Homo sapiens: one gene and its partners. The protein of the gene in region 2 purifies or fractionates together with the protein of the main gene of each other region. This does not show direct contact. Each region holds a gene or a part of one and is shown on either strand. Other genes may lie near its edges.

Region 1 (3,378 bases), on a different chromosome or scaffold from region 2:
GAGAAACTCCCGTTACTCTGATCAGTGTGTGTGTGTGTGTGTGTGTGTGTGTGTGTGTGTGTGTGTATTAAAAATGAATATTCCTGGGCTCCCAATAAACTCTCCAGGGTGGGATTACGTTGTCTTTACTGATAATGTTCTTAACTAAAAATTCTTAGTTATAAAATCACAAATTTCGGCCGGGCACGGTGGCGGAGGTGGGTGGATGACCTGAGGTCAGGAGTTGGAGATCAGCCTGATCAACAAGGTGAAACCCCGTCTCTACCAAAAATGCAAAAATTAGCCAGGCGTGGTGGCAGGCGCCTGTAGTCCCAGCTACTCAGGAGGCTGAGACAGGAGAATGGCTTGAGCCTGGGAGGCGGAGGTTGCAGTGAGCCAACAGCAGGCCACTGCACTCCAGCCTGGGCGATGGAGCAAGACTCCATCTCAAAAAAAAAAAAAAAAAAATCACAAATTTCATAGTGAAACTCAAGTTAGAGTACCTGAAGTTTATATACATAAAATAGACATACCTTTGCTATGAAAGCCTGATTTACTCTTTTTTTTTTTTTTTTTTTTTTTTTTCTTGAGACAGAGTCTAGCTCTGTCGCCCAGGCTGGAGTGCAGTGGAGCGATCTCGGTTCACTGCAAGCTCCGCCTCCTGGGTTCACACCATTCTCCTGCCCCAGCCTTCCGAATAGCTGGGACTACAGGCGCCCGCCACCAGGCCCAGCTAATTTTTTGTATGTTTAGTAGAGACGGGGTTTCACCGTGTTAGCCAGGATGGTCTCGATCTCCTGACCTCGTGATCTGCCCGCCTCGGCCTCCCAAAGTGCTAGGATTACAGGCGTGAGCCACCGCGCCCGGCTGAAAGCCTGATTTACTCTTAACTGGATATAACCAGAAAGAGTTCTGCCCACAATGATATATCTGCATTGAATCTAAAACACAGACTTCATCATACATTCTCACCTAAATTTCTCTGATGACCCAGAGTAAGGCAAAAGGTTTAGCATATGAGAGTGAAAGGATTTGAATCTCACTTTCTGTCAAACTTTAGAGCTCTGTTAACCATGGTTAGTATCAACTATGATTTTAGGCAACTTTGCTTATAGTAAAAATAACTCGTTAATTGTTACGTATCTGGATTGGGATGCACTATAAATAAATGGAGTCTTCAAGCTTTAGGCTTTCCTGAGTGTAGTGACTCTTGAAATTGACACATCCCTTGTGGATACCTGGAAGCTGTGTTTATGGAATTGTTAAGAGATATTGGTTCCTTGATGCCTGTGGAGGATCTTATCTCCTTGCACCCAAATTGTACTAGTGGACTGCTACAAGGACTTCCACTGCTAATGAGGACTGCTTGATGCTGTGCTGGCAGGCTGTTGTTTCTGTTTAATATCCTTCTGAGTAAGCGGGTACCAAGTATGGCCATGGCAGTCTTGTGAGTTTGAATGTTTAATGTAAAGTGACTTCTGTTGGTCATAGCCACAAATAATTTCAGATGTACTAACTTGATAAACATATTCCAGATGTTTGGTTAAACCTAAAAAGACCTCTCTGGTGGATGTAGCAGTACATCATTTCATATGTATTAATTTCATAACTTTTTTTTTTTTTGAGAGGGAGTCTTACTCTAGGGTGGAGTGCAGTGGCACAATCTCGGCTCACTGCAACCTCCGCCTCCTGGGTTCAAGCGATTCTCCTGCCTCAGCCTCCCAAGTAGCTGGGACTCCAGGCGTGAACCACCATGCCCGGCTAATTATTTTTTGTATTTTTAGTAGTGACGGGGTTTCACCATGTTGGCCAGGCTGGTCTCGAACTCCTGACCTCAAGTGATCTGCCCACCTCAGCCTCCCAAAGTGTTGGGATTACAGGTGTGAGCCACAGCGCCCAGCCTAATTTCATAAGTATTGATAAATTTTCATCTTACACTGAATTTACATTCAGACTTAACTTTCTTCTTACACTAAATTAATGAATTAACATAAATCATAAAGATTCTATATTTAATTATAAAAACATAAAATTATCACATCAATTTAATTCTTATAAGTTTATACATACTGCATAATGACTTTGAAAACAGTATAACTCAAAATAATAGAAAACAAAATTAATTGAATGAAGTACTACTGAATTTCAGGTATTTCTGTGACAACACAAATTTAAAATTTAATAAAATATTACCTTTTCTTAGCAAAAAGTTTCTTAAGTCAGATTATCCTTTCATGTTTTAAATGAAGCTTCTTCTAAAGAAGTCCTTTTATTCACAGTTGCAAATTTCTTTTTAACACATACAATGTATACTACATGCTGGAATCAAACACCTGAAGGAGCTGGAATCTTATGAATACAGCCAGGGCAACAGTGTAGAGAATCATGAACAAAAACATCACAGTCCACACAGAAAACATTTTGGCACACAGCACAAACATAAACCTGTAGTGAAAAGAAGAAAAGTGATAAACTAGTTTCCAAAAGTTAATTACAGCACAGCTAGATGACATTCAAGGTGTGCTTTGCTCTTTTATATCTCTACCAATTTTTTCCCACTACCTACTTTATTACTTCCAATGTACTCTATATTCTCAAATCTAAGGCAATTAATTTTTTCCCCAAAACTATCCCTTAGAAATGAGGGAATGGTTTTGTTTTTGAGTCTTTAAAGTCTATTCTATTACAGTTCGCTCTCAATTATTTCATTCTAAGGTTTAGGAAAGACATATGAGCTTCAAACCAGCGCTACTTTTGAATGCTTAGCAAGACCACCTGATTGATTCAATTAAAAAGAGAAGCATAAAAATTTAACATCGATTTAATTATTCTTAGGGAATGACCTCACAATTGCAAACATATTTCCCTTTCAAGTAAACCTTTAAAAAAATATGTCAAATGACACAGATAAGACAAGCAGAAAGGAAAAAACTACATTTGTTCTTTCAGCATTACATATATGAGTACTTGCTCCTTGGGATAAAATTTCCAGGGCAGCTTCATACACAGATTCAAAAATCACTAAATCTCAGAAGTATTTGGCTTTGAATAAAAAAAAAAAAAAAGAATGAATAAATAAATTTCAAACAACACAGACAATGACCTATTCTTAAAAACTCAAATGAGGCCGGGTGTAGTGACTCACGCCTGTAATCCCAGCACTTTGGGAGGCCAAGGCGGGTGGATTGCTTGAGCCCAGGAGTTCAGGACCAGCTGGTCAACATGGTGAAACCCAGTCTCTACTAAAAATACAAAAATTGGCTGGGCATGGTGGTGCACGCCTATAATCCCAGCTGCTTGGGAGGCTAGGCATGAGAATCACTTGAACTTGGGAGGCAGAGGTTGCAGTGAGCCAAGATTGCATCACTGCACTACAACCTGGGTGACAGAGCAAGAGTC
Region 2 (5,955 bases):
GCGGCAGAGATCGGAGTGATGTGTCTATAGGCCAAGGAACACTAAAGATTGACAACTACCAGAAGCTAGGAAGAGGTAAGGAATGGTCCTCCCACAGAGTCTTCAGAGACAGCATGAGCCTTCGGACATCTTGATTTCAACTTCTAACCTCCAGAACTGGAAGAGAATACGTTTCTGTTGTTTTAAGTTAACAGGCATGTTGTAGTTTGTTACTGTAGCCAAAGGAAACTAACACACCATCTCTATGAAATCACATGGACGGCTCATCTTCGGAGCTGTGGCAGAGTGTATGCAAATACCTGGAAATAAAATCAATGCAACCAGATCCACGTACTAGGGCTGGAATGCTTCCTGGAAATATTACGCATAGTTTGTGACTTACCTGGAAGGCAGATCTTAAATCCTCTCTTCCCCCTGATTATTCAAGCTCGAAAATTTATTATGTTCTATTATCTCTCTCACTCATTTGGCCTTGAGTTGCTGGTTATAAAACAAATGTTTTAACTGTATAAATGAATTAAAAATCCTCACATTCTCATAACTATTTAATTACTATCAAGTATTGGGTATTATGCCAAGCACTCAACAATTATTGTCTCATTTAACAATGAAAACCCCCAGTAAAATAGGTTATTGTCCATTCTTAGTGGTAAGGAGTTGTAGTTCAGAATTTAAGCAGACTTTCAGTTGGTAGTTGCTTAATAAATATTTACTGATGGATTTTTCCAAGGCACTGAGTTGGTAATAGGCCAATTCCATGGTTGCACCACAAATTATGTAAAGTAGCTACTCTTATTTTAACTAATGCTCTGGAATTTCTGGCACTCCTTGCCCTTACAAATGTCTGAATTAGCAATGAAACTAGCATGAACTCTTAAGAGGTTGCCACCATAGCTGAGCGTGGAGCAATGTGCCAAAGTAAATGTGATGTGGATTCTTAACAAGGATCGTGCAGCAAGAGCAAGTTTCTGGTAAGTCTACAGATTTCATAGTTGGAAATATGTAGGGCCTTCTTATGCTATATCCACAAAGACTATATTATAAATGATATCGTTAATTCTCAAAGATTTTTAAATAAAATATGTTCAAGGAACAAGTTCCATTTAAAATAAACACTGAAATTCTGTATGGTTCATAATGTTGAAACGCAAACAACCCACCAACAATGATATTCTCCCTATCTTCTATATGATAGTTTTATTGGCACTTCTGAAATGTTGGAAGAGAATTACCAAAGCTTTAAAAAGTAAACAATGTATAGTGCTTCTTAGGAGTATATAGAGATTTTTAGACATGTCTTATTCATATTTATGCCCCCAGATCTTAGCAGAGTGTTTGGCATATAACAGATACTCAATAGATGTTTGGTAAGTGAATGCCAGAGCTAAAATATATAAATATATTTTTGATGTCAAATTCGAAGATGTTTGTCTTAAGGACTAACACGGCAAACAGGTTCCTGGTTGGCTTCTGTGTGTCAAGAAGACAGCCTGTGATATATTTACCTTCTGCATTTACAACCATAGTTCCAATAACCCCTTTATGACTCTGGATCCTCTTTAAGGTTTCCTCCACCTCTGCCTGAAAGAGACCAGGAAGATAATTAACCAAAAGGGCCCTGTGGTAACTTCAACCCTAAGGAGAATAATGTTTAGCAAGATACCTACTCTCCTATCTCCTTAACCTAAGGTGCCAGGTGTGATAATCTCAGATTTTTAAAAGACAGCTTAGAAATTGTCAAGTCCCACATAAATACCTACGTAAGACCTCCTGGATACAATCCTGATGAATCTCTTGGCTTGAACCCTTGTAGAGACAGAGAGCTTACTGCCTCACAGGAGTTCACTCCATTTTTATCTGTTTCCATTTACTAGAAAAGTATTCTTTACATTGCATGGAAATTTGTCCCAGATTATCTTTCATTCATTGACCCTGCTGTATTCAAATGAAAATTCCTTTTCTACATTACAGTGCTTTAAATATTTATAGAGCTATATCATGGCCTCCCTCTGTCTAAAAGTAGTCCTTATTGAGAAATCTTATTTTCATTAATGTGACCTAATCAGTTCGGATGATTAAATTTAAAGGATAGTCTATAAAAACAAAGTATTCCAGGATTCTAGGATTTTCTTGATAACTATAGCTTGCGTCTCAGTGCAAGCTGAATGTTCAACTATGAGTGATTATTCTGGAATCTATTATTGTGTTTTAAACTCATTCGGAATCTTATGTGTAGAGTGTATTGTATGTTTTCTTCCCCTGTAGAAAACTCAAAGACAAGAACGATCTTTTCCAAACCTGCAAATTTTTCATGACTGAGCAATCACTGGATATTTTGAATTCTGCAAATTCTCTTGATGAGGGTTTGCTATATTCTTTTTTCCTCAGTATTGCACAGGTGAACATTTTGTTACTTCAAGATAGTTTTCCTTTGTACTTGGTATGGGCAGGAGCACTTATTTTCTCTATTTCAGCATCAGAGCCAAGGTTTTCTTGACTTTAGGCATTTGTGTACTAGATTCATGATTCTTGCCATTATGAATGCCATGTATACTATTTATCTAGGTGTTCTTTAAATTATCTCACTGCTAAAAGCTTAAATAAATGCATTTTAAGAGGAAATCGTATGTCACTACCACAAATGGAAACCTGACGTTATTCCTCATAAATAGAAATAACTGTAAAACAAACAAAATGAACAAAATGAAGAGAGAGCCTATCATTAAATTCTACTGCAATGAAAGCTCTGAGCCTGAGGCCTGCTCTTCGGATGAAAAAATGGAAATTTCCAAATGACAGTGGTATTAAGGACCTAATAGCAACAGAAATTTTCTCCTGTATGTAGTCTGAAGGTTGAACAAAATGGAAGAGGAATAACTTTCTCACGATGTGATTCACTCTTATTTAGCATTTCTCGGCCATCTTATGTAGCAACGAATGTTTGCATCTGACTTTGAGAAACACTACACTAAACCGTAAGCGTTGAACAGGGGATCAATAATTCACTGCATTTTGGGCAATCTTTAAGACGATGTCCACAGCTTCTTACAGCCACTGTGTCCTTATTTATCTTTCTCCCTTTACTTATCTCCCAAACTCCTTTCTTTTCTTTCCCTGGCCTTTCCATTTCTCCACCCAGTTGTTTCTCTTCTCATGATTTGTAAGTGCTCCTAGTATAATTTCTTAATCCCCATCTCCAATCCCCGTTTCATTCTTCTCTTAACGCCCTTTGCTTTCCACAGTCTCTACTTTTTTTTTTCTTACCTCTTTTTCTGGGGGGGAGGGGGGCGGGTCTCCCATCACTTCTTTCCTTTTTCTTTATTTCCCTTTCTTCTTTCTCAGTATCTTCCCTTCTCACCCTTCCATTCCCTTGCTTTCCCTGTCCCACCTCTTCCTTCTCTCTAAGGGTCTGATTTTTTTTCCTCTCCATCTCGGCCTCCCGCCCCCTCTTTGGAAACTTTCCTGGCTCCCCGGATTTCTCACTCCCCTGAGCATTCTTCATCCTCTGAATCTCTCTCTTCCCTTTCTCAACATCACCCCTCCTTATGTACCATCCCCGCGAAATCAATTCCCAAAACAGCTTCCAGTCATCTAGACATCTTCTTGCCCCTTTCCAAGGTCTCCCTCTCGCCCCTCCAGGAAGATCCTGGAGCCACCAGCCTCCGCCGCGGCCCCTGGACCGCCCGTGCCTGGGTGGGCCCCAGAAGCTGGGTGCGAAGGTCCTTGACGGTCGGCGTGCTTGGAACGGCGGGGCGTGGACGGAGACCCCAGATTTACCATCGCGGAGGCCGCGAAACTCTGGGCTCAGGCCGGCGGCACAGCCTCCCGGGATGTCAACAACGCTACCCGCCGTTGCTAGGAGACAAAAAAGGAAGTGGCCCCACGGAAGCGTCAGGGCTGCGCCTGCGCGCTCGCGAGTCGGCTTTTTCGCCCTGACCGCGCTCCTGATGCCTCCCGGCCGCCGTAGGCGAAGGTTCGCGGAAGAGGGGAGCAGGCGCTCACCTGAGGTTCGCCCAATCCTGGAGCAGTGGGTCCCGGGAGGGAAGAGGGAAGTGGGTCAGGCTCCCGGCCTGTGTTTGTCCATTCATTCATTCATTGAGGCACGAATTAATGTGATAACCACTTATTCGTTCAAAAACTGCTGATTCACCACCCACCAGGTGCCAGGGAGACGGACAAAATGCACCAAACAAAATGCACGAAACAGTACCGGAAGCAGTAATGTCCACGTGTGATACTTGCCCTGGAGCAAGTAAGGAGGGGACAGGACCATCTGACTTCGGGGTTGGGCTGCTCTAGGGGTTTGGTGATAGTCTTAGCTGCCTGTGACCGTCCATTAGTACTGCCCTGTTCAGGGCAGATACTGTTCGCTCGCCTCCCAGTAGTTTTTATATTGAAGAAAAATATATCAGAGCATCAAATAGTACAACCTTATGTACTTAAAAAAATTACTTTCTATCTGTCTACTCTAAGATCAGTAGAGTAAGCACAGTTGCACATTTTATGTTCTCACCTAGTTATAGCACCCTCTTCCTGTTCTCAACTCCATTGAAGAGTTGCTACTTGTCAGTATTTCTGTTAGTTGTCAGTATCCATTAGGATCTGTATTTTTGCCATTTTAAAAATCAACAGTTCTGAGTTACTAAAAAATTGCAAATGGTAGTTCCGGAGGTTCTATACGTTGCCATAGAAGAGCATTCCATTGGGTGTTTAAGGAACTGTTGGAGGAAACACGTTAAAGATCAGTTAGGAATGATCAGAAGTCACTTGACCTTTTGAGGGACATTGATAATATCCTTATAGCCTAGGAGGAAAAGAGCCACTATTGTACGACGAAGCACAGCAGGAAAATTTTATGGCTGGAGTCGTGTTATGACTTCCTGAGGTTAGAGGAGGACAAATATTGATTACAAAATACAAGCTGTAAGTTGGGAATGCATCTTCATAGGGATCATGCCATAACAACTTCCTGTAATACCGATTCTGTTTGTGCATCCATTTCCAGAAAGTAGTCTCACACTGAACAAGGCATACATCGTGCTAGGAATGTCAACTGGATTCTGAATGGTCCATGTTAGGGGTGCTCTGGGACAGTTTTGAACTCATTGGCAGGCTTGGACTCGATGATCCATTTCAACTCCACATCTGTCATTTTATTATATTAACTACAGAAATACTCTGAGAAACTGTAGTTCTGCTCTAATTTTTGTTGAGGTGTGGGTGATTCTGATCACTGTAGTTCTCTCCTTTTTTTCCCTCCAAGAAATCTGTATATCTCAGCCAGTTCACTATTACTAGCCAAAGAATCCCGCTTGACTCTCAACACCTGGTACTCCAACAAAGTTGCTTTGGAAAGGACTGCTATAGCTGTGGGGAAGGAGTCTGAGTCTGGTGTGTGCGTGTGCGTGTGCATTTGTGTGCTTGTGTGTGTATGCATGCATGTGTGTACAGATCTGGCTCTTACCTGATTGACTATAGCTACCATTTTGCAGTAATACAAATAATAGGTCTTTACAGAAATACTGGCTGAGTTGAATGAAGAGTGATTCTTGGGTTCTCTGGGTGTTTCTGATCAAGGAGATTCCACTTGATTGTGTAGCCGTTTGTTTTTCTTACAAAAATCAGTGACAGTGCACCATGTCTGATATGTCAATCAGCTTTAATGAAGGAACCAACTGCATATGCATGGAGTGTGAATTTCCTTGTTTCTGGAGTCAGGATGTCAAGCTCATTCAATAGCTGACAGCTGTAATTAGAGCAAAGAACGATTCTAGCATAAAACGCACTGACGGGAGAACCCAACTGCTGAAAAAGAAATAAGAAGTAGCCAAACTGACTTCCAACCAACAGTCAAGTTTGACTCTGTGCACAGAAAATCAATGAGGAGAACTTGAGCCATTTCCCCTTTATCAATTTTTCACTTCTAATTATTCCTTGGAGGTAGCTCGGTTTAAT
Region 3 (4,613 bases), on a different chromosome or scaffold from region 2:
CCTCAGAAAGTAATTTAACTTTTCAGTTTAAGTCTCCCTTATTAAACAGGAATATCAGTACCTACCTCCCAAGATTGTTATAAGGTTAGGTAAGATATAGTAGTATCTTTTTTTTGTTTTGTTTTTGAGATGGATTCTCACTCTGTTGCCCAGGCTGGAGTACAGTGGCACGATCTCAGCTCACCGGCAACCTCTGCCTCCAGGGTTCAAGTGATTCTCCTACCTCAGCCTCCTCAGTAGCTGGGACTACAGGTATGCATCACCACACCTGGCTAATTTTTGTATTTTTAGTAGAAAAGGTGTTTCACCATGTTGCCCAGGCTGGTCTCGAACTCCTGACCTCAGGTGATCCACTCACCTTGGCCTCCCAAAGTGCTGGGATTACAGGCGTGAGCCACCGCGCCCGGTCAGATATAGTAATATCTAAAGCATCTAAACAGTGCTGTTAAATACTAGTCCTTCAATAAACCTTAGCTTCCTTCCTTTTTCCCCTACTATAAGTCAGCTAGTGAGCTGAACCTTCAAGATAGAGAAATAAATAAGACGTTTTTCTTGCCTTAAAGAACTCACAGTAATAAAGAACTCAAAGGAAAATAGAAAAATAGGCCGGGCACGGTGGCTCACGCCTGTAATCCCAGCACTCTCAGAAGGTGAGGCCAGTGGATCACCTGAGGTCAGGAGTTTGAGACAAGCCTGGCCAACATGGTTAAGCCCCGTCTCTACTAAAAAATATAAAAATTAGCCAGGCATGGTGGCAGATCCCTGTAACCCCAGCTACTCGGGAGGCTGAGGCAGGAGAATTGCTTGAACCTGGGAGGCGGAGGTTGCAGTGAGCTGAGATCGCACCATTGCACACTAGCCTGGGTAACAAGAGCAAAACTCCATCTCGAAAAAAAAAAAAAAAAAGAAAATAGAAAAATAAATTATAAATTGAGTATGCTTATAATTCAAGGAGTGGCATGTATGATGTACATCAGGAACACAGAGCCAGTGGGGGCAGTTCCTCTGTTTGTCTGGGCAGTGGCAAGAAATCACTGGAAAAGACTTCTTGGAAGATGTGGCCGGCCAATAAACTGAGTCTTGAGGGCTGAGTAAGAGGGGACCAGGTCAGCCCCATCTCCCCACACGTCCGAGAACGAGGGGCATGTGCACAGCAGGAGAGCATGGGATCTCCAAGAAACTGTAAGCTGTTCAGTAAGACAGACAAGAAAAAAAATGAAGATTCCAGAGCAAAACGAGGTGATCCAGCACCATTTAGCTGTTTACTCCAGAAACTACGTTGCTAAAGCAGCAAAATCCTGAAAATTCTCACTAACACCAAGTCTGAAGAGAAAAAAATGGAATGGGCATTTTTGAATCTTTCTACTTTTTTGACCAAGGAATAGTGGAAAGAGTTTTAAAAAAACAAAAGAAGTGAAATAAGCGAAGCTGAAAGAGCCAGCTCTCTCTGATGAACGTGCAGGTTCCAAGATTACACTGTAAACGGGACAATCTGAAGACTACAGGCAATCTCCCATGTGGGGCATGAACCTGATTCAGAGTGTGTAAAGACAGAGTCCAAGTTATTTTTAAAAAACACTGCACACAACTCAGCTGAGCTTCCTCCTTTCTCTAACCAATCCCAAATTATACAGAAATGTGTCTAGAATAATACTCAGCCCTTAAATCACGGTTCTGAGGGGAAAATAAAATAGTCTCAGATATGGTGGGGAGGGGAACTTAAAAAAAAAACCCACACCATATCAGAGCAATTAAAAATCCCCCACATCATATCAGAGCAATTAAAAATCCCCCACATCATATCAGAGCAATTAAAAATCCCCCACATTATATCAGAGCAATTATGATGTATGGGCACAACAAAATGAAATGCAGCCAAATGGCAATAAACAAAGATGCAATAGCAAAAACAAAAGAGTAACAAAGAAGAACAAAGCTTCTGCTGGGTGCCATGGCTCACGCCTGTAATCCCAGCAATTTTGGAGGCTGAGGCGGGAGGATCTCTTAAGGCCAGAAGTTCAAGACCAGCCTAGGCAGCATGACAAGACCACCATCTCCACAAAACAATTTTTCTTTTTTTCTTTTTTTTGAGATGGAGTTTCACTCTTGTTGCCCAGGCTGAAGTGCAATGGCGTGATCTCAGGTCACCACAAACTCTGCCTCCTGGGTTCAAGCAATCTTCCTGCCTCAGACTCCCGAGTAGCTGGGATTACAGGCATGAACCACCACACTTGGCTACTTTTGTATTTTTAGTAGAGATGGGGTTTCTCCATGTTGGTCAGGTTGTTCTCGAACTCCTGACCTCAGGTGATCCATCTGCCTCGGCCTCCCAAAGTGCTGGGATTACGGACGTGAGCCACCACACCTGGTCCACAAAACAATTTTTCAAAAAATATTGAAGAAAAGAAAGAAACTTCCAGTGGAAGGAAGGAAGAAGGAAGGAAAGAAGGAAGGAAGGAGCTGTGTAAGAGAAAAAATTTGGCTGGGCACGGTGGCCCACACCTGTAATCCCACTTTGGGAGGCTGAGGCGGGTGGATCACTTGAGGTGAGGAGTTTGAGACCAGCCTGAACAACATGGAGAAATCCCATCTCTACTAAAAATACATTAGCAGGGCGTGGTGGTGCACGCCTGTAATCCCAGCTACTTGGGAGGCTGAGCAGGAGAATCGCTTGAACCTGGGAGGTGGAGGTTAAGGTGAGCCAAGATTGCGCCATTGCACTCCAGCTTGTGCAACAAGACCGAAACTCAGTCCAAAAAAAAAAAGAAAAGAAAAGAAAGAAAAAAATCAACCTAGGAAGTAATACAAATCAAGGAACGAAGAGTTATTCCTCACAATTAATTCACAATACTAGAACAATGTAAGCTTATAAACTCAATGAAATAAGTACTCAATCAGGTTATCAAATTTTTTAACTTTTTTTTTGGAGACAGAGTTTCGCTCTTCTGCCCAGGGTGGAGTGCAATGGCAAGATCTAGGCTCACTGCAACCTCCACCTCCCAGATTCAAGCAATTCTCATGCTTCAGCCTCCCAAGTAGTTGGGATTATAGGCATGCGCCATCACGCTCGGCTAATTTTTTTTTTTTTTTGCATTTTTAGTAGAGACGGGATTTCACCATCTTGGTCAGGCTGGTCTCGAACTCCTGACCTCAGGTGATCCACCTACCTCGGCCTCCCAAAGTGCTGGGATTACAGGCGTGAGCCACCGCACCTGGCCAGGTTATGATTTTGTTTGATTTGGTTTGGTTTTTTGAGAGGGAATCTCGCTCTGTCGCTCAGGCTGGAGTGCAGTGGGATGATCTCAACTCACTGCAACCTCCACCTCCTGGGTTCAAGCGATTCTCCCACCTGAGCCTTCTGAGTAGCTGGGATTACAGGCACGCACCACCATACCTGGCTAAATTTTATATTTTAGTAGAGACACGGTTTCACCATGTTGCCCAGGCTGGTCTGGAACTCCTGACCTCAAGTGATCCACCTGCTTCTGCCTCCCAAAGTTCTGGGATTACAGGCGTGAGCCACCTCACCTGGCCTGTTTTGTTTTGTTTTTGTTTTTTTGGAGATAGGGTCTCCCTCTGTCACCCAGGCTGGAATGCAGTGGGGCGATCTCGGCTCACTGCAACCTCCGCCTTCTGGGTTCAAGTGATTCTCCTGCCTCAGCCTCCCAAGTAGCTGGAACCATAGGCGTGCACCACCACGCCTGGCTAATTCTTTGTATTTCAGTAGAGACGAGGTTTCACCATGTTGCCCAGGGTGGTCATGAACTCCTGAGCTCAGGCAATCCACCCGCCTCGGCCTCCCAAAGTGCTGGGATTACAGGTGTGAGCCACGGCACCCAGCCTCAATCAGGTTATTAAGCAACATAAAGAGATGAAAAGAAAGACCACGGCCCTAGGGAACAAACAGAATACCCAGAAAAGATCATTCCAGAACTAATAAATTCAAAATGGCAAGAAAAAAGACACAAATGAAAACAATTACTGGTTTAAGAAAATCACAAGTAAATGGCAATAAAAAAGGAAGAAGCCTGGGCAAAATGGCAAAACCCCGTCTCTACAAAAAATACAAAAATTAGCCGGGTGTGGTGGCAGGCGCCTGTAGTCCCAGCTACTTGGGAGGCGGAGATGGGAGGATTGCTTGAGGCTGCAGTGAGCCAAGACTGCGCCACTGCATTCCAGCCTGGCCAACAGAGTGAGACCCTGTCTCAAAAAAAAAAAAAGAAGAAGAAAGAAATTATGGGAAAGAAAAACTAATAAATATAGAAGACAAAGATGGCTCAACATAACAATATTTGGTGTCCTGAAGAAAAGGAAGTAACGAATGGAATAGGAAACATATTCAGAGATATAAGGAAATTTCCTTTATATGGAAAGAATAAAGTCTGCAGATTGAAAGCTATAAAATGCTCATTAGAAAGTCAGAATCTTTAGAAAAGCTACTGAGCATAAAGGTGAAGATGAGGATTATTTTATTTATTTATTTATTTATTTATTTATTTATTTATTTTGAGACAGAGTCTCGCTCTGTTGCCCAGGCTGGAGTGCACTGGCACGATCCCAGCTCACTGCAACCTCCTTCACCCCCCAGGTTCAAGCAATTCTCCTGTCTCAGC

The links. The genes of interacting proteins can lie anywhere in the genome.
Region 1: the proteins of DYNLRB2 (region 2) and GTF2H2C purify together in Homo sapiens (affinity purification with mass spectrometry; one large-scale study listed by BioGRID and IntAct). This does not show direct contact.
Region 3: the proteins of DYNLRB2 (region 2) and DYNLT2B purify together in Homo sapiens (affinity purification with mass spectrometry; one large-scale study listed by BioGRID and IntAct). This does not show direct contact.

What each region holds. Positions count from the first base shown.
Region 1 is NC_000005.10:69,591,125-69,594,502, reverse strand, and holds part of GTF2H2C (general transcription factor IIH subunit 2-like protein), read right to left. Parts: intron 2,425-3,378; coding exon 2,305-2,424; coding exon of another isoform or gene 2,292-2,304; 3' UTR 1-2,291. UniProt on the Homo sapiens protein: Component of the core-TFIIH basal transcription factor involved in nucleotide excision repair (NER) of DNA and, when complexed to CAK, in RNA transcription by RNA polymerase II.
Region 2 is NC_000016.10:80,538,902-80,544,856, reverse strand, and holds the start of DYNLRB2 (dynein light chain roadblock-type 2), read right to left. Parts: upstream 3,865-5,955; 5' UTR 3,781-3,864; coding exon 3,778-3,780; exon of another isoform or gene 3,555-3,777; coding exon of another isoform or gene 3,552-3,554; intron 1,582-3,551; coding exon 1,506-1,581; intron 1-1,505. UniProt on the Homo sapiens protein: Acts as one of several non-catalytic accessory components of the cytoplasmic dynein 1 complex that are thought to be involved in linking dynein to cargos and to adapter proteins that regulate dynein function.
Region 3 is NC_000003.12:196,307,194-196,311,806, forward strand, and holds part of DYNLT2B (dynein light chain Tctex-type protein 2B), read right to left. Parts: intron 1-4,613. UniProt on the Homo sapiens protein: Acts as one of several non-catalytic accessory components of the cytoplasmic dynein 2 complex (dynein-2 complex), a motor protein complex that drives the movement of cargos along microtubules within cilia and flagella in concert with the intraflagellar transport (IFT) system.